Homo sapiens: one gene and its partners. The protein of the gene in region 7 purifies or fractionates together with the protein of the main gene of each other region. This does not show direct contact. Each region holds a gene or a part of one and is shown on either strand. Other genes may lie near its edges. The genes, in order: BAZ2A, PADI3, SAFB2, AGRN, HSPG2, HP1BP3 and PYHIN1.

Evidence for each region.
Region 1: the proteins of PYHIN1 (region 7) and BAZ2A purify together in Homo sapiens (affinity purification with mass spectrometry; 2 studies listed by BioGRID and IntAct, with this or other methods). This does not show direct contact.
Region 2: the proteins of PYHIN1 (region 7) and PADI3 purify together in Homo sapiens (affinity purification with mass spectrometry; 3 studies listed by BioGRID and IntAct, with this or other methods). This does not show direct contact.
Region 3: the proteins of PYHIN1 (region 7) and SAFB2 purify together in Homo sapiens (affinity purification with mass spectrometry; 2 studies listed by BioGRID and IntAct, with this or other methods). This does not show direct contact.
Region 4: the proteins of PYHIN1 (region 7) and AGRN purify together in Homo sapiens (affinity purification with mass spectrometry; 2 studies listed by BioGRID and IntAct, with this or other methods). This does not show direct contact.
Region 5: the proteins of PYHIN1 (region 7) and HSPG2 purify together in Homo sapiens (affinity purification with mass spectrometry; 2 studies listed by BioGRID and IntAct, with this or other methods). This does not show direct contact.
Region 6: the proteins of PYHIN1 (region 7) and HP1BP3 purify together in Homo sapiens (affinity purification with mass spectrometry, with the first as the bait; 2 studies listed by BioGRID). This does not show direct contact.

What each region holds. Positions count from the first base shown.
Region 1 is NC_000012.12:56,609,827-56,613,326, reverse strand, and holds part of BAZ2A (bromodomain adjacent to zinc finger domain protein 2A), read left to right. Parts: intron 1-93; coding exon 94-312; intron 313-1,080; coding exon 1,081-1,554; intron 1,555-1,693; coding exon 1,694-1,754; intron 1,755-2,787; coding exon of another isoform or gene 2,788-2,809; coding exon 2,810-2,918; intron 2,919-3,111; coding exon 3,112-3,213; intron 3,214-3,380; coding exon 3,381-3,500. UniProt on the Homo sapiens protein: Regulatory subunit of the ATP-dependent NoRC-1 and NoRC-5 ISWI chromatin remodeling complexes, which form ordered nucleosome arrays on chromatin and facilitate access to DNA during DNA-templated processes such as DNA replication, transcription, and repair.
Region 2 is NC_000001.11:17,247,923-17,251,897, reverse strand, and holds the start of PADI3 (protein-arginine deiminase type-3), read right to left. Parts: upstream 2,801-3,975; 5' UTR 2,761-2,800; coding exon 2,669-2,760; intron 1-2,668. UniProt on the Homo sapiens protein: Catalyzes the deimination of arginine residues of proteins.
Region 3 is NC_000019.10:5,612,777-5,616,276, forward strand, and holds part of SAFB2 (scaffold attachment factor B2), read right to left. Parts: coding exon 3,356-3,500; intron 752-3,355; coding exon 689-751; intron 1-688. UniProt on the Homo sapiens protein: Binds to scaffold/matrix attachment region (S/MAR) DNA. Can function as an estrogen receptor corepressor and can also inhibit cell proliferation.
Region 4 is NC_000001.11:1,044,120-1,047,619, reverse strand, and holds part of AGRN (agrin isoform 2 precursor), read right to left. Parts: coding exon 3,363-3,500; intron 3,287-3,362; coding exon 3,181-3,286; intron 2,460-3,180; coding exon 2,343-2,459; intron 2,262-2,342; coding exon 2,097-2,261; intron 1,888-2,096; coding exon 1,744-1,887; intron 1,657-1,743; coding exon 1,532-1,656; intron 1,461-1,531; coding exon 1,355-1,460; intron 1,224-1,354; coding exon 885-1,223; intron 801-884; coding exon 663-800; intron 294-662; coding exon 166-293; intron 48-165; coding exon 1-47. UniProt on the Homo sapiens protein: Isoform 1, isoform 4 and isoform 5: neuron-specific (z+) isoforms that contain C-terminal insertions of 8-19 AA are potent activators of AChR clustering.
Region 5 is NC_000001.11:21,934,511-21,938,483, forward strand, and holds the start of HSPG2 (basement membrane-specific heparan sulfate proteoglycan core protein isoform b precursor), read right to left. Parts: upstream 2,801-3,973; 5' UTR 2,708-2,800; coding exon 2,645-2,707; intron 1-2,644. UniProt on the Homo sapiens protein: Integral component of basement membranes. Component of the glomerular basement membrane (GBM), responsible for the fixed negative electrostatic membrane charge, and which provides a barrier which is both size- and charge-selective.
Region 6 is NC_000001.11:20,770,308-20,773,807, reverse strand, and holds part of HP1BP3 (heterochromatin protein 1-binding protein 3), read left to right. Parts: intron 1-197; coding exon 198-357; intron 358-2,734; coding exon 2,735-2,878; intron 2,879-3,500. UniProt on the Homo sapiens protein: Component of heterochromatin that maintains heterochromatin integrity during G1/S progression and regulates the duration of G1 phase to critically influence cell proliferative capacity.
Region 7 is NC_000001.11:158,945,052-158,948,551, forward strand, and holds part of PYHIN1 (pyrin and HIN domain-containing protein 1 isoform alpha 1), read left to right. Parts: intron 1-3,500. UniProt on the Homo sapiens protein: Major mediator of the tumor suppressor activity of IFN in breast cancer cells. Promotes ubiquitination and subsequent degradation of MDM2, which leads to p53/TP53 stabilization.

The DNA of each region.
Region 1 (3,500 bases), on a different chromosome or scaffold from region 7:
AGAATTGGATGTTTTCTGACCAGTGTTTCTTAAATCTTGCTTTCTGATTTTTTTCTCATTATCCTGCTCTGATTTTTCTACCCTTGTAAACAGAGCCAGTGAGTGGAGGACTATATGGTATTGATGACACGGAGCTGATGGGTGCAGAGGACAAGCTGCCTCTTGAGGACAGCCCTGTGATTTCTGCCCTTGATTGCCCTTCCCTCAATAATGCTACTGCCTTCAGTCTCCTGGCAGATGATAGTCAAACATCAACCTCTATCTTTGCCAGTCCCACCTCTCCACCTGTCCTAGGGGAGTCTGTCCTGCAAGGTAAGTGACGGTAGGTAGGACAAAGAAAGACCTTTACCTGAGAAAAGATGAGAGAATAAGTTTCATAGTTAGGGCCTTAAGAGTGGGAAATCTGGCTGGGCGCAGTGGCTCACGCCTGTAATCTCAGCACTTCGGGAGGCCGAGGCGGGTGGATCACCTGAGATCAGGAGTTTGAGACCACCTGGCCAACATGGTGAAACCCCGCCTCTACTAAAAATACAAAAATTAGCCAGGTGTGTTGGCACATGCCTGTAATCCCAGCTACCTGGGAGGCTGAGGCAGGAGAATCGCTTGGCCCCAGGAGGCAGAGGTTGCAGTGAGCCGAGATTGTGTCGTTGCACTCCAACCTGGGCAACAGAGCAAGACTCCATCTCAAAAAAAAAGTAGGAAAGCAAGAGCACCTTGCTGGGAGCTGAGGGGCTATGGGATAGTGTATGGTGGAACTAAAAGAGGTATAGGCTGCTATACTCCGACCTGTGCCCTCTGCTTTGAAGAACTTGTGAGACTTGGAATTTGTAGGGAGAAGGAGGCTAGAAGCTTTATTGGCACCAGGTAAAAGGTATTTCTTCACACAATGACATCTGTAGCAACTTTACCCTTTAATCCTCATGATTGGTTGGGAGAAAAAGCTACTTCTTTTTCCAACCCTAGGGAAGACCCCTTGAAGTAACCCTGTTTAGCTTGGTCCAGGGTTGACTGAGTAGATTCTCTTGTTTTATGTGATGCCTTTTTTTTTTTTAAAGCCTATCCTGTCCCTTTGGATTCTAGATAACAGCTTTGACCTGAATAATGGTAGTGACGCTGAACAGGAAGAAATGGAAACTCAATCTTCAGACTTCCCACCATCCCTGACCCAGCCAGCTCCTGATCAGTCATCCACTATTCAGCTACATCCAGCAACCTCACCAGCAGTCTCGCCAACAACCTCCCCAGCAGTCTCCCTAGTGGTTTCTCCAGCAGCCTCCCCAGAAATCTCTCCAGAAGTTTGTCCCGCAGCTTCTACAGTTGTCTCTCCAGCAGTCTTCTCAGTGGTCTCTCCAGCTTCCTCAGCAGTCCTCCCAGCAGTCTCCTTAGAAGTCCCGTTGACGGCTTCAGTGACATCCCCAAAAGCCTCTCCCGTAACTTCCCCAGCAGCTGCCTTTCCAACAGCCTCCCCAGCAAATAAGGATGTCAGCAGCTTTCTAGAAACCACTGCTGACGTGGAAGAGATCACTGGAGAAGGACTCACTGCTTCTGGTAGTGGTGAGTATCCAGATTCTATTCTATCCCTGTCTGGTTCCAAGAAACTTTTCTGTCCCATGTTGTAGTTAGCCTTTCCCTATTGGCCTATTGTTTAAATATTTTGCTTGAACTCTTAACTTGGGTATCCCTTCCTCCCAAGGTGATGTCATGAGGAGACGTATTGCTACCCCAGAAGAAGTTCGTCTTCCCCTCCAACATGGGTAAATGCTCTAGTTTGCTACATTTATTGACCTTGACAAGTTTAATGCACAACTCTAGAAAGAAGGGAATGCCTCTTTTCCTCTGAGGTGGGGGAGGAATGGGCCAGACAAGAGTAGATTACAGGACAGTTATCTGCAGTGATAATGTTTCTTGGCATGAGATTCCTAGGTTTTCCTTCTTCTCTCAAGGTCTGTCTTCCATCACCTATTCTTTTTTCATCTTGTAGTGACTCAATTTTGCCCAAGGAGCTCCAGCTATTATCTTTTCCAAACCCTAGGGCTCACATCCAAACCAGCTGGCTTGTCCTATTTCTGTGGACAAGGGATAGTAATGAATGAGGAGTGACTTAGTACTAATGAATTGAGGTGGTTTTGTTGTTTTAATGCTCTTAGGAGAGGTAAGGGCAGGAACAGTACATGACCAAAATGAACAAACTAGCTGACACCAGGGCCTTGTGGAAATAACTGCCTTCCTGGATCTTCCCCACCCCTGCCCCTCAAGGCTACTTGTGGTCACCAAGTCTGAGTACTGCTTAAAATTTTGAGAGAAAGATTAGAGTTAGTCTTAGAACTAACTCTGACTAACTTTGTGTTCTGCTCAGAACACAGAGTTCCTAACTAAACCCTGGCATATTGAGTCTTTTCATGGAATCAGCAGCAAATTTATTTTTCTGCTTGCCTCCCTGCCCTTTGTCTTCTGTCTTTATTCCCCTTAGGTCTTTATCCTCTTTACTGGAAATCCAGTAACTGCCCTGAATGGCTCAGGGAGGGGTTTCTGGCAGCTTATCTCACTGATTTTGTAAAGGAGGGATGGAGATCTCTCTGAGCTTGTGCAGTTTGGTGTAGTGCTTTTCTCCTAAGGGCCTTGATGTATTTGCTGGAGCTCAAGTCAGCCTTCTAGCCAAGCTTATCTCTCTTGGTGCTTTTGCATCTGCATGCAGTTCTAGAGATACAAATGTGGGGAGGGCCATCTGCTCAGAGGGCTTCGCGCTTAGGTGGCATGGGAGTGGGTAGGGGTGTGACCTGGCGGCAGGGCCCATGTGCTTCTCTGGCAGGTGGCGGAGAGAGGTGCGCATCAAGAAGGGCAGCCACCGATGGCAGGGGGAGACCTGGTATTATGGCCCCTGTGGGAAGAGGATGAAGCAATTTCCAGAAGTGATCAAGGTAATGTAGCTTTTTTTAAAGGACTGCTTTCTTGGGCTCAGTGGACTCCTTTCCACTGCCCAAGACTCCGTTCTTGGGCTCAGTGACAACAGGCTGGCATTGTCTGCTCTGGGCCTGTTCTGCTTATGCCTTTGCTGGCCAAAGACATGGTAGGATCCAACTTTATTAATGTTACTTTACTTCTTCCTCTTAGTACCTGAGCCGCAACGTGGTACACAGTGTCCGCCGAGAGCACTTCAGCTTCAGTCCCCGTATGCCTGTTGGAGATTTCTTTGAAGAAAGAGACACGCCAGAGGTGCAGACCCAAGGGTTAAATATGCTTTTGTCCCTGAGGAAGAGTTGGTGGACAAGCTGCAGCTTCCTCTCGTGGGGTTTGAAGGTTCTGGGGCATTGAATGGTTCCGAGGGCCTCGTGGCCTGCACTGATTCCTTACTACTGTAACAGTCTCCCTTGCTACCTTAGGGCTTGCAGTGGGTGCAGCTCTCAGCAGAGGAGATCCCGTCGAGGATTCAGGCAATTACTGGCAAACGGGGTCGACCTCGAAACACTGAGAAGGCTAAGACTAAGGAAGTCCCCAAGGTG
Region 2 (3,975 bases), about 140 Mb from region 7:
TTCTCCCAATACGGTCCAGAGACTGTTCCCCAGACATCCTGCATATGGCAGGTTTGGGGATGCTTGAGGCTGTCCACAGGCCCAGGACAAAGCCTTAAACTGATGATGATGATAATGGTGACAGTTAACATAACTGAATGTTCACCACAAATCAGTATTAGTTACATGCTTTGCACACACAATCTCATTCAATGCCCCTAACTGCCCTTTGAAGTAAGGCCAAACTGGGTTACATCCTGGCTCTGCCACTCACTGGCCATGTGACCTTGGACAAGTTGTTTAACCTCTCTGTGCCTTTGTTTTCTTATCTATAAAATGACGATGATGACAGTGCCCACTTGAGAATTTTGTGAGAATTAGTTAACATATGGAAAGCGCTTACAGGCACTGCTGGGGAGTGGCATTCAGTGCCATTGCTGATATTATTATCATCCCCAGGCAACAGGTGAGGAAACAGAGACTCAGAGAAGTTAAAGGAGTTTCCCACGGTCAGAGAGCTGGGAAGTTGCAGAGCCAGGACTGAGCCACAACACCTACTGCCCTTTCTCTTGTTGGCCCGCAGGCTGAGGACCCAGGATTGTTACATCATGGCACCTCCAAGCCGGGAGGGACCTCAGAACTAACTCAGTCCTGCTCCCCTTCCCAGAAAGGAGTCCTTTCTGTGGCACCCTTGTAAGAAGGTTGTCCAGCCTCTGCTGGCTTCTCAGAGAGGAGGAGCTGCTTGTTCTCCCCTGTATGTGTCCCCAGAGCCTGTGCTCATCCTTCAAGGCTCTGAATGGTACACACACTAGACCCAAAAGAAATACTTGAAGAATATGTGAATGAACGAACTAGGAGCTCTCCACTCCCACCCCTGGGGGGTTTGGCCACCAGGGCCCAAGAATCCCTCATTTGAAGGTATCAGAGCTTCCATCCCCCACCCTGTGGCTGTCCCACCGATGGCCTTCTCTGCAAACCTCCAGTGTGGCTCAGGTGACTCCAGGAAGCTATGGCCTTTATCTCTTATTGCCCCAATCCATCCTCTATCCTCTAAGGAAGCTCTGCGGGGGAGGAGCCAGGCCCAGGCTTCCTGGGACAGGTCAAACCGGAGACACATCTGCCCAACGGGCACGAGGCAGCAGGGGCAGGTGAGTCACCCCATGGCACGCAGCCCAGTCACCCCATGGCAGGCAGGCAGTGGTGCCAAGTGGCAGATACCCCTCCTTCCTCATTACCTCCTTGGCACAGCCTCCGTGGCTGCCCCTTCCTTCAAGAACCACTGAATCCCCTTCCTCCTCCTACTGCCCACCCACCAATACCAGGATTTATTTCCTGGGCTGGCTCTGCTCCCGACTTGGTTCCCTCCCATGACCAGCTCCTCACCCCCTCTCATCCAATGCCCTGGATCAACCCCATCGCTGCTCCCGACTAAGTTCGCCCTGATTTTTCGAGTCTTAGTCTTGGAGACTCGTTCTCAATGGGTGGGCTATTTTCTTCCCACCCCAGGGCACATTTGGCAATGTCTGGGGACATTTTTGGTTGTCACAACTCGGGAGTGTGCTGCTGGTATCTAGCAAAGAGAGGCCCAGAATGCTGCTCTCCATCCTACAGTGCACAGGGTGGCCCCCATGACAAAGAGGTATCGTGACAGCAGTGCTGAGGTTGAGAAACCTGGCCTGAGGAGAGGGCTGGGAGACTTGAGAGGTGAGAGCTGTCCCACAGTTCTGCACCCTCCCCTCCCAGTATCCTGATTACCTCCAAGCCAGGACCCTGGATTCTCCCCAAAAGCCTAAGAAGCCAGCTCCCTGGTGGTCCCCAGAGCCCAGCTCTTAAAACCCTACCCTAACCCTCTTTTCTTCCTAAGAGAGAGAAGATAAGGCCTTACCTCCCTCTACCATGGGCCTCAAAGGCATGACCTGGCACACAGTAGGAGCATAATGCATGGGCATTGAGTGTCTAGAGGAAACCAGGTTGGAAATCTTTATTTTCCAAGTATCAGAGCAGCTAAAACCATAAGACTCCTGAGTAAGACCACAAGCGGGTTTAAACCCTGGCTTTGCCACTTAGTAACTGTGTGACTTGAGCAAATGGCTTGCCCTCTCTGCCTCGGTTTTCTCATTTGTCTGATGAGATGATGCTAATAATAAGCCTAGCTCACAGGGTTGTTGTAAGGGTTAAATTCAAGATTAAAGTTCAAAACTTAACTCAAGAGACTTGTGAAGCTCTTAGAATAGTGCCTGGCACATGGTAAGTGCTATGTATTAACTTATTTTTTAAAAATGATTCATGCTCTGTTTCTAGGCTCATAGGCTCAGGATGGGGCTGGGGATATCTGCCTGTTCCTATTCTTGTGTGCCCCAGACAGATCCTCAGCCCAACCTGCAGCATCCCTTGGACATAGAAAAGTGCCATCTCTTCGCGGCACCAGCCCCCTCCAAGCCCCCGGTCTGGAGCTCAGTCACTGAAGCCTCTTCTACCTGGCTCAGCCTCCCAAACTTCAAATTCCCTGGCTAAGGTCTTCAGGAAACTCAGTAGAGCAAGAGGAGGACCCAAGCTTCCCTGATTGGCTGCTGTTCCGAGGCCAAGGCTGGGGAGTGGGCCCTGAAGAAGCCCTGCCCAGCCTGCAGGGAGGAAGGTCCAAGGGCATCAGCACCAAGGGCCTGCAAACCACTAGGCCTCTGACTCTTACCCATAAATGTCCACGAGGGTCTCCACGCCAGCCACACACACCGCGCTGGTGGGATGCTCCAGGGACACACGCACGATTCTCTGCAGCGACATGCTGGTGTTGGACTTAGCTGTGGCCGCCAACCCCAACACTGCCCCTGAGGCCCCTTAGGATGAGGTTTAAAAGCCCCTGGCCCCACCCCTCCAGCCCAGGGTGCCAATTCATTGGCTCCAGTCATGAAAGCCCAGCCCCTTCCCAGAGCTGAGAGCTCAGGATTGGCTGGAAGGGACCCAGTATTTGTATACGAACCTGTTGTCCCGACCCCGGCACCCAGGAAGTTAATTTCTTGGGAAGCAAGTCCCCACAGGTACCTGGCTAGGCACCAGGAACTGTTGGGGGCAGGTGCTGTTGAGGGGGTGCAGAGATATATGATATTGATCTCGGACGCTTCTTGCTTCCTCACCTCCATTTTCTGCATTTTCAGAGACTATAATGGGGAGCTTTCTTACTCTGCTGGGGAAGCTGGTGAAAATGCGGATTCCCAGGTCTGTTGTCCACTCTGATCCAGCAGGTTAGGGGTGCAGCCTGGCCTCTGGATTTTTTTTTTTTTTTTTGAGACGGAGTTTCACTCTTGTTGCCCAGGCTGGAATGCAATGGTGCGATCTCGGCTCACCGCAACCTTCGCCTCCCAGGTTCAAGCAATTCTCCTGCCTCAGCCTCCCGAGTAGCTGGGATTATAGGCGTGTGCCACCACTTCCGGCTAATTTTGTATTTTTAGTAGAGACGGGGTTTTTCCATGTTGGTCAGGCTGGTCTTGAACTCCAGACCTCAGGTGATCCACCTACCTCGGCCTCCCAAAGTGCTGGGATTACAGGCATGAGCCACAGCACCCGGCCCTCTGGATTTTTTAATAAGCACCCCCAAAGCATTTTGGTGCCCTTTGAGAAACACCAACTTTTTTTTTTTAATGGATTTTAGAGCCAGACCTGGGTTTCAGCCCTGCCTCAGCTGCTTCCTGGATGGGCGACCTTGGGCAAGTTTCTTTTTTTTTTTTTTTTTGAGACAGAGTTTCGCTCTGTCACCCAGGCTAGAGTGCAGTGGCGTGATCTCGGCTCACTGCAAGCTCCACTTCCCGGGTTCACGCCATTCTCCTGCCTCAGCCTCCCGAGTAGCTGGGACTACAGGCGCCTGCCACGGCTCCCGGCTAATTTTTTGTATTTTTAATAGAGGCGGGGTTTCACCGTGTTAGTCAGGATGGTCTCGATCTCCTGACCTCTTGATCCACCCGACTTGGCCTCCCAAAGTACTGGGATTACAGGCGTGAGCCA
Region 3 (3,500 bases), on a different chromosome or scaffold from region 7:
TAACAGTCTGTCCCATTCTCCCGAGTTTGGGCCCTGCCCTGCCATGCCACCCACCCCATGACCAAGCTGACCTAGTGGCTGCTGCAGCTGGCAAACACCCCCTTTGTCAGAGAAGAGGTCACAGTGGATTTAAGAAAAAAATACTTCTCCCAACATAAACTGATTTGTAACTGAAACCTGTCATAACAAAATGATCTCTCTACTCTGCTGAAAACCTTTTCCGACATCTGTCTCACTTAGGACAATAGGTCCAATCCTTCTGGTGGCCCAGACTCAGCGAGGCGGGCCCAGCTGCTCTGCAACACCTCTGGCTTCTATCCAACCCTGTGTGCTCCCCTCTCTCTTTTGCATCAGAGACACCACCCAAACTTTCTGCTCCAAATTCTTCTTTCCCTCTTCAACCTATCCGTCAGACCTCTGGGAAGAGTTCCAGGCACTTATGAAGTCCAACCACCAGAACTGCTCCCTCATCACACTTCTTTCTCCCTTCTGGTTACATATTTGGTTTGATCCCACTGCCCCTGCTAGATGGCCAGCCCTGAGACTGTTTCTCTTCTGCTAACCTCTTAACCCCAGCATCCAGCACAGTATCCAGTCATTTCCATACACATACACACTGCTCTTTCATTATGGAAAATCAACCACTCGATTAACATTTCCAGCGATGCAGAACCAGATGGTAACTTACCGGAGTTACTTTGAAGTTCAACGATGAAGTTTCCAAAGTGTTCTTAAATCCTTCCCCATCCACCTGAAAAACAAAATGGAAGATGACTTCGTGGAGGCTGGAGCTATGAAAACCAAGGCTGACACCTCGCTTAGGCAACTTGTGTGTCTATTTCCCTCACGGCACCTTTTGCCATCTGCAAGTCTACTGTTGGGTCATTCAGTTCAGCACCTGCCTCTCCGCCAGAACACACACTCCACGACTCTGCTCCACCAGCGTCTCTGGCAGTGGCCTGCAGGTGGGTATGCCCTGTCTGTACTGGGTGAATGAACGAATGAATTTCCCAGGCAGTTTCTAAGTACTGGTGATTACCACATACCCCTCCAATCACAGGATTTCCAAAGCAGAACTCAAAATGATAAAATGCACCCCTCCAATTTCACCTGGTAGCAATACTCTTAAGGTAACACTAACCGGGCACTTTCTCCTAGCCTACTTTATTCATTCATTCATTCACTCATTCATTTGAGACGGAGTGTCACTCCTTTTGCCCAGGCTGGAGTGCAATGGCGCCATCTCGGCTCATTGCAACCTCCACCTCCTGGGTTCAAGCAATTCTCCTGCCTCAGCCTCCCGAGGAGCTAGGATTACAGGCATGCACCACCACGCCCGGCTAATTTTTTGTATGTTTTAGTAGAGACGGGGTTTCACCATGTCCAGGCTGGTCTTGAACTCCTGACCTCAGGTGATCCGCCCACCTCAGCCTCCCGGAGTGTTGGGATTACAGGTGTGAGCCACCGCGCCTGGCCCGCCTAGCCTACTTTATTAAAAACAAACATCTAACTTGGTCAATTTCTCTCTTTACTACATGCCAAACAAAAGAAAAACTGTTAACACCAAGTTTTACTAAATCTGAAGCTCTTTTTAAGTGAACTACAAAAACAGCACTCCCAAATATTTTCTTTTTTCCTTTTCTCGATTTGAACTCATGACCTGGGATGCCTCCATTAACTGAGAAGTACACACTCTGAAAACAATAAGCACACAGCAGTACCAGACTGAGAAAGGCGGCTAACCAGTTGCTCAGTGCTGCCCTAGGTCAAAGGATGGTAAATTTGGAGGCAATGACTTTTGACCGTAAGGTTTAAGGTTCAGTCCTATGGAGGCATTTCCACCCCCAAGCTGAAAGCTGCAATGCCTTAAGGAAACAAAACAACCTACTGGGCACGTGACATCAGTCAGAGTACAATGAAGATCAGCTCGAAGACACTGACAGCTTGTGATATTTGAACAGCCTCACCAGAGAGCTCTACGCCAAAACACTAGAAGTGAAAAGCTGGGAAAGCCCTAACAGAGCAAAGTTCCTCCTTTACATACAAGGATGCTCACAGTCAGTCCTTTTGGGGAGCAGGGTTGATACTTGTCTTCACTGTACTTTACATCTTTTAATGTAACTGCTTAACCTTGCTTAAAACAACATTAACAGGCTAGGCGTGGTGACTCACCACTATAATCCCAGCACTTTGGGAGGCCGAGGCAGGCAGATCACTTGAGGTCAGGAGTTCGAGACCAGCTCAGCCAACATGATGAAACCCTATCTCTACCAAAAATATAAAAAATTAGTCAAGTGGCTGGGCGCAGTGGCTCAAGCCTGTAATCCCAGCACTTTGGGAGGCCAAGGCGGGCAGATCACGACGTCAGGAGATGGAGACCATCATGGCCAACATGGTGAAACCCCATCTCTACTAAAAATATAAAAAAATCAGCTGGGCGTGGTGGCGCATGCCTCTGGTCCCAGCTCCTCAGGAGGCTGAGGCAGGAGAATTGCTTGAATCAGGGAGGCGGAGGTTGCAGTGAGCCATAATCTTGCCACTGCACTCCAGCCTGGGTGACTGAGAGAGACTCTGTCTCAAAAACAAACAAACAAACAAAACACAACATTAGGAGGAATATCTACATGATGAGATTAGAAACCATTTTTGAGCTGGGCACGGTGGACCACACCTATAATCCCAGCACTCTGGGAGGCTGAGGCGGGAGGATTGCTTGAGCTCAGGGGTTCAAGATCAACCTGGGTAACCTAGTGAGATCCCGCCTCTAAAAAAAAAAAAATTTTTTTTTAATTAGCTGGGCGTGGTGGTTCACTGTGTAGTCTCAGTTATGCAGGGGGATTGCTTGAACCTGGGAGGCTGAGGCTGCAGTGAATTATGATGACCCCACTGCACTCCAGCCTGCACAACAGAGCAAGACCCTGTCTCTAAATAAATAAACCATCTTTGCTTCTTAAAACTGTATTTTAAAAGGAAAAAACTAAATGGGCACTGTGGCCTGTGCCAATAAGCCCAGGTAGTCAGGAGGATCGCTGGAGCCCAAGAGTTCAAGACCGGCCTGGGTAACAGTTGAGACCTCATCTCAGAAAAGAAAAATCTTTTATGTCAGAGCTTTCTATTTTATGACTCACCACATGCTTCGAATTATAAAAACACTCCCCAGTGCTACAGAAAAGCTATCTATGAGTAAATCCCTGAGCTACACAGCGTTTAAATGGACATGGTTTAACACCAGGGTGTAGAAGCAGAACTGTGTGTTCATGGCGGTTTAGCTGTGTTCTCCCTCACACGAGCAGCACGCGAGCACCAGGTGCCTCGGGGCTATGGGCACATCCTGCCGTGTCTCCAAGTTACCTACAGCATGCTCTGGGGGCTGAGCCGGGAGCTGTCTCAGCTGTGCAGCCACGTATTCTTTACTATCACAAAAGGAATCGAGAAGGCCGTCCGTGCCATCCTCCCCAAAATCTGGAGCACTGCTATTCGCCACTTCAGTTTCGTCTAGC
Region 4 (3,500 bases), about 160 Mb from region 7:
CTCCGAAAATCCTTCTTGACGTCTGAATTCCGGAAGAGGTCGTCCAGCTGTGGCAGGGAGTAGGCAAGGACTTGGGGGGCCGCCCAAGCCGGGCTGCCCTGGTGCTGCTCTGGGTATCTGGGGAGGAAGGCCAGTGGGTAGGTGGGGGCTGCGCCCCCGTCTTACGGTGCTCTCAATGCTCCTGGCTGTCTCCCCGAACAGTTCTGACTTGGGGTCAGCCATCTCGGGCGTGTAGAACAGCTCCTGGCCCTCGACGCCCTCCAGCTCCAGGACGCCCTGGAACACCTTGGTGGCTGTGGGGGAGGTACAGTGAGGCCCTGCCTGGCATCTGCCTGGCATCCAGGCTGGCCCAGGCACAGGCCCCAGCAGCAAGCCACAAGGGTGCAAGGGAAGGTGGATGTTAGTCAGATGGTCATGAGGTTAGTGGGGACCCCAGGGTGGGGCTGGTGTCGGTTACCAGGAGGACTCCTCAGAGCAGTGTGCCACACCGGCTTGCAACGAGAGAGACGGGTTAGGCGTGGGGTCCCCGGCACGCACATGTTTGAGGGGGCCGAGTCCCAAGACCATAACCCCCGGCACTGACCTGCTGCCCAGGCGAGGGGGCAGCACCTCGGCCGAGCCCAGGCTATCCTCACACTCCCCTCGCCCAGCCGTCCACTCACCGGGGCAGTTGGAGCCCTCTGCGTCCAGCGAGGGCGTCTTCCCATCAGAGCAGCAGCCCAACGCGGAGTTGTAGCAGGAAGCCCTCTCGACAGGTGGCCCAGGGGTGGCCACGCTGCTGCCCTCCAAGGGCTCGAGCCCTGGGGAGACGCGCTCTGAGCCCAGGCTCTGGTGGAGCCTCTCGGCGCCTGCCCACCCACCCCAAGTCCTTGATCCCTGCTCACCCCCAGAGCCACCCCCACTGGCCTCCTGGTCCCCGCTCAGTTCCTCATCGCTGCTTCCATCAGTGCTGCCAGATTCACCAAAGGCGGACGCCACCAGGCTGGGTGCAGGGGAGGGTGCCGTGGGGGGCACCGTCAGCACGGGCCACACGGTGGTCCTGGGGACGCTGGCAGTGGTCCGAGGTCGTGATGAGGGCGGAGGGGTGGTCTGGCTGTGTGCGGTACTGCTGGGAGCCAGGGGGAGGGCGCCGGGGGGGGCCGGCAGTGCCTGGCTCAGGAGGAGCCCTGGGGTGGTCACAGTCACGGAGGCAGATGTCGGGTGAGTGCTGGGAGCAACAGCCTCTGCAAGGAGAGGGAGGTTGGCGGGGGGACCGGTTGGGACAGGGTCAGGTGGCTCAGGGCGGGTGGGGCTGGATTTAGGGCAGCGTCAGGCCTTCCTGGTCAGTTCTGGGGCAGTGGCCGTCAGGCCTCACCCTGGCACGGGCCCAGGCTCTGGATAGAGATTTGCAGGCCCTGGCGGCAGGCGATGGTCTTCAGCTGACACTCGTTGCCGTATGTGACTCCATCTGACCCACAGACCTGGGGCAGAGAACAAGGATGTTCAAGGCGAGGCCTCCTCCCCACTCCCCTTCACATCCCACACCCCTCACCTTGGTAGCGTTGGCCTCTGGACAGGTGAGCATCGGGCAGACACAGTGGGCTGAGCCAGACTCCTCCACGCACCGCGCACCGAACTCACAGCGCATCTCCGCACAGGTCGCAGGCGCAGAAGCGTCTGGGGCACGGGCATGGGAAACCTCTGTGGCTCGGGTGACCCCACCCCACCCCATGAAGCCCCAGGGTAGCGCTGGCCCTCACTCACCAGCTTCACAGCCCGCGGGGCCCAGGGCACGGCCGTCTGGACACTGCCCACACTTGGGTCCAGCCACCCCGGGCTTACACGAGCACAGCCCCGTCATCTGCTCACAGTCATCCCGCACGGCGCCTTGGGGATCACAGCTGCAGGCTTTGGGGAAAATCGGGGAGGAACGTGATGTCCGCACCTGGACGGGCTTCCCCACCTCCTCCAGAGCCTGGTCCCCAACCCTGGCTCTGCCCAGCCCCCAGCCAGGTGTGGGTCAGGCCAGGGCCTGGGCAGGTGAGGAGAAGCACAGTGATGGGGGTGAACAGGTAGGAGGGCATAGCCGGTGGCCAGTCCTGGGCCCTGTCACTCACGTGTACAGCCACTCCGGCCATCGGTGACGATGCCTCGAAAGTTCCAGAAGCCAGGCTCACAGCGGTCACACCTGAGGCCCCCCACACCTGGGCGGCAGGAGCACTGGCCTGTGGCTGGGTCACAGGTGCCGCCGTAAGAGCCATGGGGGTTGCACTGGCAGGCACCTGAAAGGCCAGGGCAGGACAAGGTCACGTGGCCGCACAGCCGCACCAGGCCCGGGGTCGGGGCTGAGCTCAGGTACTCACTGGGGCAGCCAGCCAGGCCCACGCCCCGGGCTGCGGTGATATTGTCCTGGCAGCAGCCGTAGGGCGTCTGGGCACAGTGTAAGGGGGCCACAGGCGGCAGCGGGGCGAAGGTGGGGCCTGCAGGAAAGGGTACGGGACTCAGATTTCATGCAGTGCTGGACACCCACCCTGGACCCAGCCAGTCTGCCTCCACCTACCCCCACTGTCACCACTCAGCCGTCCCGATCCCAGCTCCCAGAGGAGCCCGGGAGCCTGGGGCTGAGGACACAGGTGAGGCTCCCACATCTTACGCAAGAACATGTCTGTAAATGCAGATCCAGGAACACACAACACACAGAGCATCCAAAGATCACGGACACGCAGCTCTGTGCACACACACACGCGAGCTTCCTTGCAAATCGAGAAACAGACATCTGAAGACGTCAGCATGCGTTCTCACCCACATTCCTCCAAACCGTACAGTTAACGCCCCTCTGCAGACACACATCTGTGCACGCGCATCACACACACCGGGCACCACTTTTACCTAATTGATGTGATACATCGACCGGATGGACGTATGCAGAGAAAGTGCCCACACGGTGGGGCCCCGCATGGTTCACGCTGCCTCTCAGCACTGAGGCCTGGCCTGGTGCACGCCCACTGACTGATGGACACACACGCCCACACACGCAGCTGCACAAATGTGCACAGGCACCAACACTGGACGATGCTCACTTACAACACAATACACACGTCCACAGGGGCCCAACGCAGCACACGGGCACGCCCACATCCAGACACGGAAACCCAGACGCCGCCCCGCCTGTGCCTGAGACCCCACGTGCAGCCGGCTCACCTCGGCAGGCTCCCTGGGCCGCTACGTAGAGCCCTCGCTGTGACTCACACCTGGCCTTCTTCAGCTCACACTCGGTGCTGTAGGTGACCCCATCTGAGCCGCACACCTGGAGGGTGGTGTCAGTGTGAGCGGCCGCAGCCCCGTCCCCGCCGCCCGCCGAGAGCCAGGGGTACAGAGCTCACCGGGCTGCCTGGGACACTCTGGCAGCTGAAGTCACAGACACACGGCCCGTCCTCCGAGTCCTCGTCCCAGATGCCACCGCGCTGCCGGCACAGCTCCTGCTCACAGTCACCGTCCTCCCCAGAGCCAGAGCCTCCGGA
Region 5 (3,973 bases), about 140 Mb from region 7:
GTCATCCCAACACTTTAGGAGACCGAGGCGAGAGGATCGCTTGAGGCCAGGAGTTTGAGACCAGCCTGGGCAACAAAGTGTGATGCCCTCTTTTTTTTTTTTTGAGACAGAGTCTTGCTCTGTCGCCCAGGCTGGAGTGCAGTGGCGCGATCTCGGCTCACTGCAAGCTCCGCCTCCCGGGTTAACGCCATTCTCCTGCCTCAGCCTCCGGAGTAGCTGGGACTACAGGTACGTGCCACCATGCCTGGCTAACTTTTTGCATTTTTAGTAGAGACAGGGTTTCACTATGCTGGCCAGGCTGATCTTGAACTCCTGACCTCATGATCCGCTCGCCTCGGCCTCCCAAAGTCCTGGGATTACTGGCGTGTGCCACCGCGCCTGGCCCCGAAAAACTTTTTATTGTTTGTTTGTTTTGAGGCGGAGTCTCACTCTGTCACCCAGGCTGGAGTGCAATGGTGTGGTCTCAGCTCACTGCAACCTCCGCCTCCTGGGTTCAAGCGATTCTCCTGCCTCAGCCTCCCGAGTAGTTGGGATTACAAGCATGCGCCACCACACCCGTCTAATTTTTGTATTTTCAGTACAGATGGGGTTTCACTATGTTGGCCAGGCTGGTCTCAAACTCCTGACCTCGTGATCCGCCCACCGTGGCCTCCCAAAGTGCTGGGATTACAGGCATGAGCCACCGCGCCTGGCCTGAAAAACTTTTTAAAAAGAATTTTATAAAGAGACTTCAGGGGCCAAGCTCTTTCCAGCCCACCACCAGCAGCCTGGGGTGGGACAGCGACCCTCCATGTGTTGCTGAGAAGGCTCTCTAATCCCACAGGATTGGAGCTGCCTGTTTATTTGTCTAAATTACCGCCCACCAGCCTGTGAGTGCTGGGAAGGCACAGACAGGGCCTGTCCTTGCTGGTCCAACCCACCCCAGCCCCTAGCACCACACGAGGTTCACTGGTTCACTGGCACACAGTAGGTGCATGGCAAATATCTGCCCAAAGAATGAACCTCTGTACTCCCAGTGACTGCCATGGAATGTCGCTCAGTGATGATCTGTTGAATGAACAAGTGAATGAGATGATCTGCCACGGTCCAGGAATGTCTGTGGAAATTCCTCATGCACACAGCAAACAACTCCACCCACCGCCATCCTACCGCACCCGGGCATGGAGGAGCCCCTCATCGGGGGCAGAGCTGGGGGAAGGTCAGGAAAGACTGTTGGGCCTCGGAAAACATCCCACGTGCTAGGTTGGTGCGTTGGGAAAAGTAAAAGTCAGTGCCAGGAGTGCAAGTTCAGGTCAAGACTAGGGAGCTACTGGATGGCCCTGCTGAATATTTTGGGGTGAGAGGCTGAAACAGGAGGACGACAGAGGAGGCTGCCCAGAGTGGGGATGGGGGAGGAGAAGTGCTGGGTGGGTGGGGCAAGAGCAGTGAGGAGCCAGGTCTGGGTGGGGGCTTGACGAGTGACTCAGGAGGGTAGAGGTGCGATGAAGCCAGGAAGGTGAGGCCAGGCAGGCAGTTCCTGGGTAAACACCAGCCTGGTTAGAAAAGTCCCTCTCTTGGCTCAGAGAACAGGGAGGCAGGTATGGGGACTGCCTAGGAGCACCTCGGAGAGAGTGGGGGTGGCTCTGTGGCTCCCCACGGTAGGCTCGGCTCCCCAGATGTGCCCCCACCCACATCTGCCACTAGCTCCCTGCCCACCGACCCCACCCAGTCCTCCTCAAGTTCACTCAGGTCCTCAGGGCCTCTGCTGGCCAAGTGCCTTCTAAGCCTCGGGATTCCTGACCGTAGAATTCCCTTTTCCTCCACCTAAGCTCAGAGTAGGGGACTAGACTGCAAGGGCAGGCCTCTCCCTGCCTCTTGGAGACCTGGGAAGAGGAAAGCTGGGGAACTCGGGTCCCCCAAGGGTGCACTGCATCCCCGCACCACGCACTTTGCAGCTCATTCCACGCAGTCCAGCAACGCCCTGCAGCTATGCATTTTGAGGCCGTGCATTTTGAGTTCCCTTGACCCACGTGGGGCTGGCCTCAGAGAGGTTAACTAGCGTGCCCCAGGTCACACAGTTACTCAGTGAAAGGCAGGGATTGATTCAACTCTTCGGCTGTATGACTCCAAGGCCCGTGGGTGTTCCACACAAGCTTCAGTTCTGTCCCAAAAGTTTTGCTTGTGCCTACCTGGGTCCAAGCTCCCCAAGGTGATAGACGGTGTGGTAAAGTTTCAGCGAGACTCATAGGGTCCCCATCACCACTGAGTGGCCGTTCTGCCAAGCTGGCGCAGAAGGGTTCCCTCGTCCTGCCAAGTTCCCACCCTGCTCAAAGTTTCCCCTCCTGGTCCCCAGGAATGGTAGGCCGGACCATGCCCAGCGAGACTCCAGCACTCGGCAACGTGGCCGAGAGACCCACGGGCTCCCACACGGGCCAGCCCCGCCCCCAGCCCCACGAAGGGTCCTGACTGGTGGCCCCCCTGGATTAGCCCCATGCCGCAGGGTGGCGCCGGCCCGGGGTCCCCGGCGGGCGCCGCCGTCCCGGGCCAGAGTCCCCGCCGCGCAGCCTTGGGCGCCCCAGCCAAGTTGGCGGGAGGCGGCGAGCGGGACCGGGGCGCCCCTAGCCCCTCCGCCCCCGCCCCCCGCCCCTCTGCCCCGCACACTCACCGCCAGCAGCCGCCCGTGCAGCAGCAGCGCCAGCAGCAGCGCGCCCGCCGCCCGCCACCCCATGGCCCGGCCCGCGCCGCTCTCTCGCTCGCTCGCTCCGCGCCGCCCGCTCCGCGCCGCCCGCAGCCGCCCGCTCGCCGGCCAGCTCGGGACAGCGCGGCCCTCTCCCCACCGCCCCCTTTCCTCCCCGCCCGCCCCGCCCCCGCAGCGCCGGCCCCGCCCCCGAACCGCCCCTCCCCGGAGCGCCAGGCCCCGCCCACGGACCGCCCCCGGGCCGCGGGCTCTGCTCGCCCCAGCCGGCCGCGCAGCCTACTAGGCCTTTGTCTGGGCCCCCAGCCCCCTCCGCGCGGGCCGCGGCCCGGCCCGGCTCCCCGCCAAACCCGGCCTGGAGTATGGGATGGGACGGGGCGGGGGACCGGGGGCCCGGGCCCGGGCATGGGATGGGGCCGCCGGGCCAGGCGCTCTCGCCTCCCCGATCCCCGGCTCCCCCGCTTCCCCGCGCGCGCCGCCGACTTCCACGCCCCTGCACGCCCCGCACGGCCGACTCCACTCGCGCAGCTTTTGAAGATCCCGGGATCTCCTTCCCACGCTCACACGCACGCAGCTGCCGCTCCGCGCCACACGTGCACGCCAACTTCCACACCCAAGAACACCTTCACACCATAACTTTACTGCACGAACACACTTGTGCGCTACCCGGGAACACTTTCACACTCTGGACCCAACTCTGAAGTACCAACAATCCTCACCGGCTCACATGCACACTTAACTCGCTTCCAAACTCTCACCTCCACCAGGGACACAGGAGACAGCCCTCACACCACACTCAGCCCCTCACTCACGCATACATCCCAACAAGTCACGGAGCGGGAGGACGCCTTTTCACATAGATTCCTCGCAGGCACGCACATTTCACACACAGGCCCACATCATTGCCTACATGCTTACCAGCTTGTTTTTTTTTTTTTTTTTTTTTTTGAGAAGGAGTCTCGCTCTGTCCCCAGGCTGGAGTGCGGTGGTGGGATCTTGGCTCACTGCAACCTCCGCCTCCGGGTTCAAGCAATTCTCCGGCCTCAGCCTCCTGAATAGCTGGGATTACAGGCGTGCCACCACGCCTGGCTAATTTTTGTATTTTTAATAGAGATGGGGTTTTTACCATGTTGGCCAGGCTGGTCTCGAACTCCTGACCTTGTGATCTGCCCGCCTTGCCCTCCCAAAGTGATGGGATTACAGGCATTGAGCCACCGCACCCAGCCTCAGCCTGTATCTTTTACCTGTTCTCACCCACTAATCACAGTGCCTCATAGTGGGCACTGGGTACTGAACTGA
Region 6 (3,500 bases), about 140 Mb from region 7:
ACCTTTTTAATTCATTTATAGTACCCAGTTTTTAAAGAAGATTTATTTTGTAAAATTTTGCTTATGGTACATGTCATCTTAGCCTGTAAATAAATTAAAGCATTAATTTTTATCCCTCCCTGGTCTTTTCCTCCTTCTGACTTTATACGTCTTTCTAGAGAGCTTATCTTCTATAATAACAATTCTTTGTTTTAAAGTGAGAAAGATCAGTCTAAAGAAAAGGAGAAGAAAGTGAAAAAAACAATTCCTTCCTGGGCTACCCTTTCTGCCAGCCAGCTAGCCAGGGCCCAGAAACAAACACCGATGGCTTCTTCCCCACGTCCCAAGATGGATGCAATCTTAACTGAGGCCATTAAGGCAAGTTTTTATTTCAAGCAATTCATCTTAGATTTATTATGTTCATTTTTTTCTTATTTGAAAATGGCATATATCTGTCTAGACATCATAAATCTTGTTCTGCTTCCTAAAGGAGTTTTAAAGAGAGGAAAGTCATTATAAGTTCATGTTTTTCTAATATAATCACATTTGGTGAACACTGTTAATTTTTTTAAAAAAATTATATTTAATATAGCAAATATTTTAACTTTAGAATTTTTAAATGCAGTTTATCGATTAAGTACAGTTTTTATTTGAAGGCTGAAAATGTTAATTCATTGAACAAACATTTAAGGACTACCTTCCTCTGTTGGGCGCCCCTGCTAGTGGTGAATTAACTAAGGCTAGCAAAGTCCTTGCCCTTATAAATCTAATTGTGACTCAGTAACTGAAAAATATTGAGAATTTTTGTTTAAAAAATATCTCTAGGTTCATTTCTAAAGCTAAGTGATCTTGGTAGTGGTTATCTTTCACACCTGAACCCTGTTAATAAACACTGCTTTATTACCTAGACATTCCAAAATGCTTACAAAAATTATCCTCCTTACATAGATTTATGATTTCATTGACTTTCATTAGATGTAGTTTTCCTATTTTAATTTTTAAAGGTTATCTTCTAATTTGACATTGCCTTTATTGTATAAGTCTTTTCATTTAATTTTGCCTTGTTTAGTTCATATGATCAGATGATAAGAGGAGTTAGAACAGACCCATCTTTCAGGGACCCTGTTGTTAGGATCTGAGGCAGGACTGGGGAGACAGGGATACAGATGATTTTAACCAGAAAAGGGGGGATGTGTACGAAAAGGAGCAGCCTGGTTGTCATTCTCAGAATATGAGAAGATAGCACTAACACATAAACTGGAAAAAGGGTTTGCCTTCAGACTTCTCCCTTTACTCCTTCAAGACTTCTTATGCTCTCACCTCATTAAGAAAACTTTATTGGTCTAGATTACCTCACTGTAGTGAAATCTCTGTTCTTTGTATAGCCTTTCTTCAAGGATTTCACTTGATGACCACTCAGCCTGGGTTTGAAGGAGCAGCATCATAGTGAGGATGGAAAAAGGGCTGAAACTTTAAAATAGTGAAATAAAAAATTAAAACAATATCAATTTGGCTTAAAGAATGGTTTGAATATAATTGTGCATATTTATGGAGATGATTGATTTTATATAGATAATGTGTATTCCATGCAATATGACAAATTATTGTTTCAGACCATGGATACCATTTTCTGTATTGAACAGGAATCATGATGTCTACTACCATCTCACTGTCGGATTGGTGGAGCAAAAGATTATTTGTTTCAGCATTAGTGTTCTTTTCTGCTTGATTTTCTTTGCTCTGTGTTTTCTTTTAAGATCAGGAGTAAACCTCAGTAGGTCATTAATAGTTCAGAGACATAGACTTGAATTACATGACCCATATTAATACAACTTGTTTCGTGTTGTGCAATCTTTTCTGGACCATCTACCTGTGAGTTATTTTTCTTTGTTGTCAAAATGTATAAAAACATTCAACGAAGTTCTTATCCAATGAGAATGAATAAGTGCTACATTGATTTAATAGACACTGTGGCAGTACAAAATTGATGGACTAGCTCATTAGATAAATGACAGATGCTACTTTTGTGTGTTTCAAAATTTAAAGTATTTGATTTCAAGTCAGTGACCAGTTGGAAAACAAAATTTTAAGCATTTGAAAAAAATTAAGTATTTGCTGCCTTTGTGACATAATGAGCTACTTAATTCTTCCAGGTGCATTAGTCAAATGGAGTATAAGTAAAATAGGATGGAAATGGAAGAGGGCACATTAAATTCAAATAGAACACCTTCACTATTACCCAAAACTCTCCTTCAGCACTTTGCCATCTGTAAACCCATTTTTATGCCACTTATTCAGATTATCTTTGATTCTTCTTTCTGCTGACATTCATACAGAGCCTTCAGGGAAATGTCCTGGCATGCTCATTCCTTAAGCTCGTGCCTTAAAATGGGACAGATCTGTGATCCTGTAAGTGATAGGTTTGTTCTGCTTTTCTCATTTTGATGCCAAAGATTCATCTTCTAAATACAGAATGGAATTAAAATGGAAAGAGGTTCTTCATTATACATAGAATGTTGTTCGTGTTCAGTATGGTCTCTTAGGCTGTTTTGAACAATTTAAAATTGTAGTAGAAATATTTAGTAATTCTGTTACTTCTCTGTAGTCATTATGAACTGAAGTCTTCTGAAGTTCATTCTTCCCTACCGTTTTTGTCATCTATCATCAAATTCACTTCCAAAATAATTTATTTTGAAAATATATGTCAGGCTCTATCTAATAAAAAAAAACAACTAGTTTAATAAATCTTTTCTAGGCATGCTTCCAGAAGAGTGGTGCATCAGTGGTTGCTATTCGAAAATACATCATCCATAAGTATCCTTCTCTGGAGCTGGAGAGAAGGGGTTATCTCCTTAAACAAGCACTGAAAAGAGAATTAAATAGAGGAGTCATCAAACAGGTATTACACAATTGTTAGTAGTAAGATCATTTCATTGTGTATTAGCTTTAAGTCTACAGTTAGTAACATTTAGGCTTTTTGTGCCTTTTTTGTTAAAAATAAGTTTCATGATGATGAAATTCCTTAAGTTTAACCTAGTTGAATTATCTGAGGCTAGGTTTCGAAAATGCTGGTGCCATTAAGATAGTGTAACTTTTTTCTAGCTTACTTTGCTCTTAATTGGATATTTTTTGGGGGGCTGCTTGTGCTTGAAATCATGTAGCACTGAACATGAAAAAGAGGTAAGGAATCCTACTACTGAAACAGCAAAAATGAGGCTAGGGATGGTGGCCTACACCTGTAGTCCCAGCACCTTGGGAGGCTTAGTTGGGAGGATCACTTGAGCCCAGGAGTTCGAGACCAGCCTGGGCAACATAGCAAGACCCCTTCTCTACAAAAAATACAAAATCAGCAGGGTTTGGTGACACATGCCTCTAGTCCCAGGTACTTGGAAGGCAGAGGCAGGAGGACCGCTTGAGCCTGGGAGGTTGAGGCTATTGTGAGTTACGATCTCACCACTCCAGCCTCGGTGAGAGTGAGACCCTGTCTGAAAACAAAAAGGAATAACAGAAATAATAATTGC
Region 7 (3,500 bases):
CCTGGGTCCCATGACTCTTATCTCCCAAATATAAATTACAAGGATCATTAGATTGTTGAAAGAGTTTCTCTTCTAATCCCTAACTGTGTACAATCTCTAGATAAAATTAAATCACCCATGTATTTATTGAATGCATACAGTGAGATACTACCACATGATAGTCTTTGCTATCTAAAAGATATTTATTTGTGCAACGATTGCTGACCACAAGAGGGCTAGTATCTTGTCTTGCTCCACCTATGGGAGGGGTAATGGCCAGAGAAGTAGAGATGAAGACAAAGAGTGTGTTATGACCCACATTCCAATTTCTTTCACAACTTTCCCCTTTGCTTATTGGTATTATTTCTGAATTTATTTTCAGCATTCCAAGTTGAAATAAATATTCGAAGTATATATTTGGAAACATGCTATTTCATTGTTGGGAATCTATTTCTCCCATCTCATCACTGGCAAGAATTTCCTTAAATTTCAGACACCAACTTAAGTATTTTCCTCTGGCAAGTCCTCAATGATACAAGATAGCAGAACTGTTGAGTCCTCCTATTGTTTGCTTTTACAGGGCCTCCTGTCAATGAGAGTAAAGTACTAATTTCACAGAAGTGAACAGAGAGGCTTATCATATAAGATGTTTTCCATACTTCCTTGATCTGGGGTTTCCCTTAATAGGGTCAGTGTAGCACATGATATATTTGTAGAAAAGAAAAAAACTACAAGTCCCAGCATAGAACATGTAACGACAATGTTCTGTGTTTGAGCATTTAACTAGGTGTTTGGTCTTACATGTTGTTCCTGATGTACATTATCTCATTCCTTCTTCATAACCATCAAGAGGATGCTACTTTCTGTCCCAATTGACATAGAAGAAAATAGACACACTCAAACATAAAAAAAAAGTCTTCCTCAAGTTCTCAAAGACAGTGTTAGAGTCAGGATTCATATCCAGCCCTATTGAAATGTAAAACTTGAACAATTTATGATTATATGGGGCTTTAGATTAAAAGTTGAGATATACTAATGTCAGCAATTTATTTTACAAATTTCAGAATTGACAGTGTCATTTAATGAATATGTTTGCATAGCCCAGGCTCTGCAGGGCTTCTCAAAAATAATGAGGTACCCAGAATGAACAAAGTGTACTGTCATACAGAAGCCACTCTCCAGAATTAGAGTCCTCTCATTCTTCTCTATAACAGAGTGCTTTTTATATATTACATAACTGAATTCTAGAAGTGGTAGAACTATGGAAAGTAACCTATTAATGAATGGTAAAAAAAATCAGTGAAAATAGAGAAAATTATATGATTGAGGAGACCTATGTCCTTGCTTTTGGAAAAAAATGTTAAAAAACATTTACTGCAAATGCTCAAGTAGATTGTTAAGTATTTCTAAATATGATTAACAGCCCTGAGGATTCTGGCTAACTTATGCAGACTACAAAACAGCAGAATTCTGCATCTGGAATTGTGGATTTGAAAGAATCCTTCTAGCACAGTGATTAGATAGATAGATAGATAGATAGATAGATAGATAGATAGATAGATGAAACATAAAGCTGGATTTCCTACAATCTAAAGAACAGACAACAGGTACCCATTTGTGTATTTCCTTGACTAGAAAGACTTAGTTAATAAACACCCATCAGACATTTTCAGAGTGAAGTTTGTAATTCCGGTTTCTGTGTATGCAGAAGAGGAGATTTAGGGAATTTACATTTATACAGATATTCCAGAGAACATTCACAAAGAGAGGGTCCTGTTAAAATGGATAAAATATTTATTATGTTGTGACTCATATTGAAAATTATTGACCAGAAAAAAATAATCTATTTTCCTCCCAACAATTAAGGACACAAACACTGAAACTCCTGACCTCAATCTCCTAATTCAGCCCCAGAGCAGAGTGAGCCTCAGCAAACTGCAGTGAAGAACTCATTTCCATATGGGTTCCAGCATCAGGTTTCTCAGTTATGCCCAAAAACCACATCATGCAGTTTCTTACACAAGATACTATCTTGTATTTCCCATTCCTGTGCTTCACAACATCATAATTACTAGGGTGATTGGATCATGACAGGTAACTCATTGATCCCAACTGAATACAATCTTTTTAATAAAATTTATTATCATTAGTTAAGTATATTCTTTGAGACCTTATTAGATTTTGTCTTTTGGTGTTTACAAAGTATATGTTCATGAAATCATTCCTGACTCAAGAGGATTACTGTCTTTTGTTGGTCCAGGTGTAGAGAGAGATTGTGGGGATATAGCCAGATAAAGGAAGATGAATACAAGAATGTGTTCATTACCTATATTCCAGTTACCTTTCATCCTTTCACTTTGTTTATGGCCATACCTCAGGTTTTATTTTAAACTATCCATGGTCTTTTCCAAATCAGAAGCTTTGACAAAGATTGCTTCCTTTGCTGGGATCATTTTCTCCAGTCTCTTCTCTAACCCACCTCTCCAGCCTAAATCCCTTCCTAGGACAAGTTCTCACTGGTACCTGTGGGGGTTTGTCCTGCAGACCCTGACCCAACAACAGATGAATAACATACACTGACACAGATATTCTGCCTGTCAGTTCGGCTAAGGGTCCAGACCCATCACAGACACCAAAGAAGGTGCTGTAAAGAGTAGCAGCCACAGCCTCCACTAGCCAGCCCTGCGGGCATTTATTTAGCACAGATTTAATTGACAAAGGCTTTGAGTCAACACACCTGTAGGTAATTAATCTGATCACCAACCCCCAAGTAAAGAGCGATTATGCACCCACAGTTGATCAAAGGTTGGTCTTAAGACCACAGAAGTAAACAAGCTATTTAGATAAACTACCTCCTTTGTACCCACTTTAAGCTATTTACTCAAGGTAAGGATTAGGCTGCTTTCAGCCATAGCCCTATCTTGAGACTTTTACAAAACCTTCCAGCCTTCCAAGAAGATTTGTGTCTATGTCCTAGAACTTCATCTTAAAATTTTTCCACCAGCCTGACTGAACTACAACATGTCCCCCTTTTCTGTTTTCTGCATCAGGTTCTCTTGACTGAAGCATACAGATGTGTGCAGCAACAAGTCTGTTGGGTGGGGCGGTCATTGCTATTATTCTGGCTTTGCATCCTAGAATTAGCAAATAACATAAGATAATCATGAATATAATTAGCAGCATTCTTTTCCAGTCAGAGTGACCCCCAGGAACAGGTGTCAAACCAGTAGAGATAATCTTGCACACCCTTCCATATGGCTGTTTGTTGGGTGTGTGGATCTATAGTGTGAAAGGATTCTAAAATTTTAGTTTTAAGTTGCTTTATGTCTGCTGCCAAATTGTCATGAAAGGTTTCCCAGAGGTGTTGTTTCACCTCATTCCAACCATGTATTGATTGATTCCATGGTAGAGAAATGATACAGATATGTTTATGCCCCCAGTTGCAGTTTCATTGCTGTTGGAATGCCAGTGCGTCTTGTTGCTCCCCCACATATTCTAAGGCAGCCTCGAGGGATTGCAGT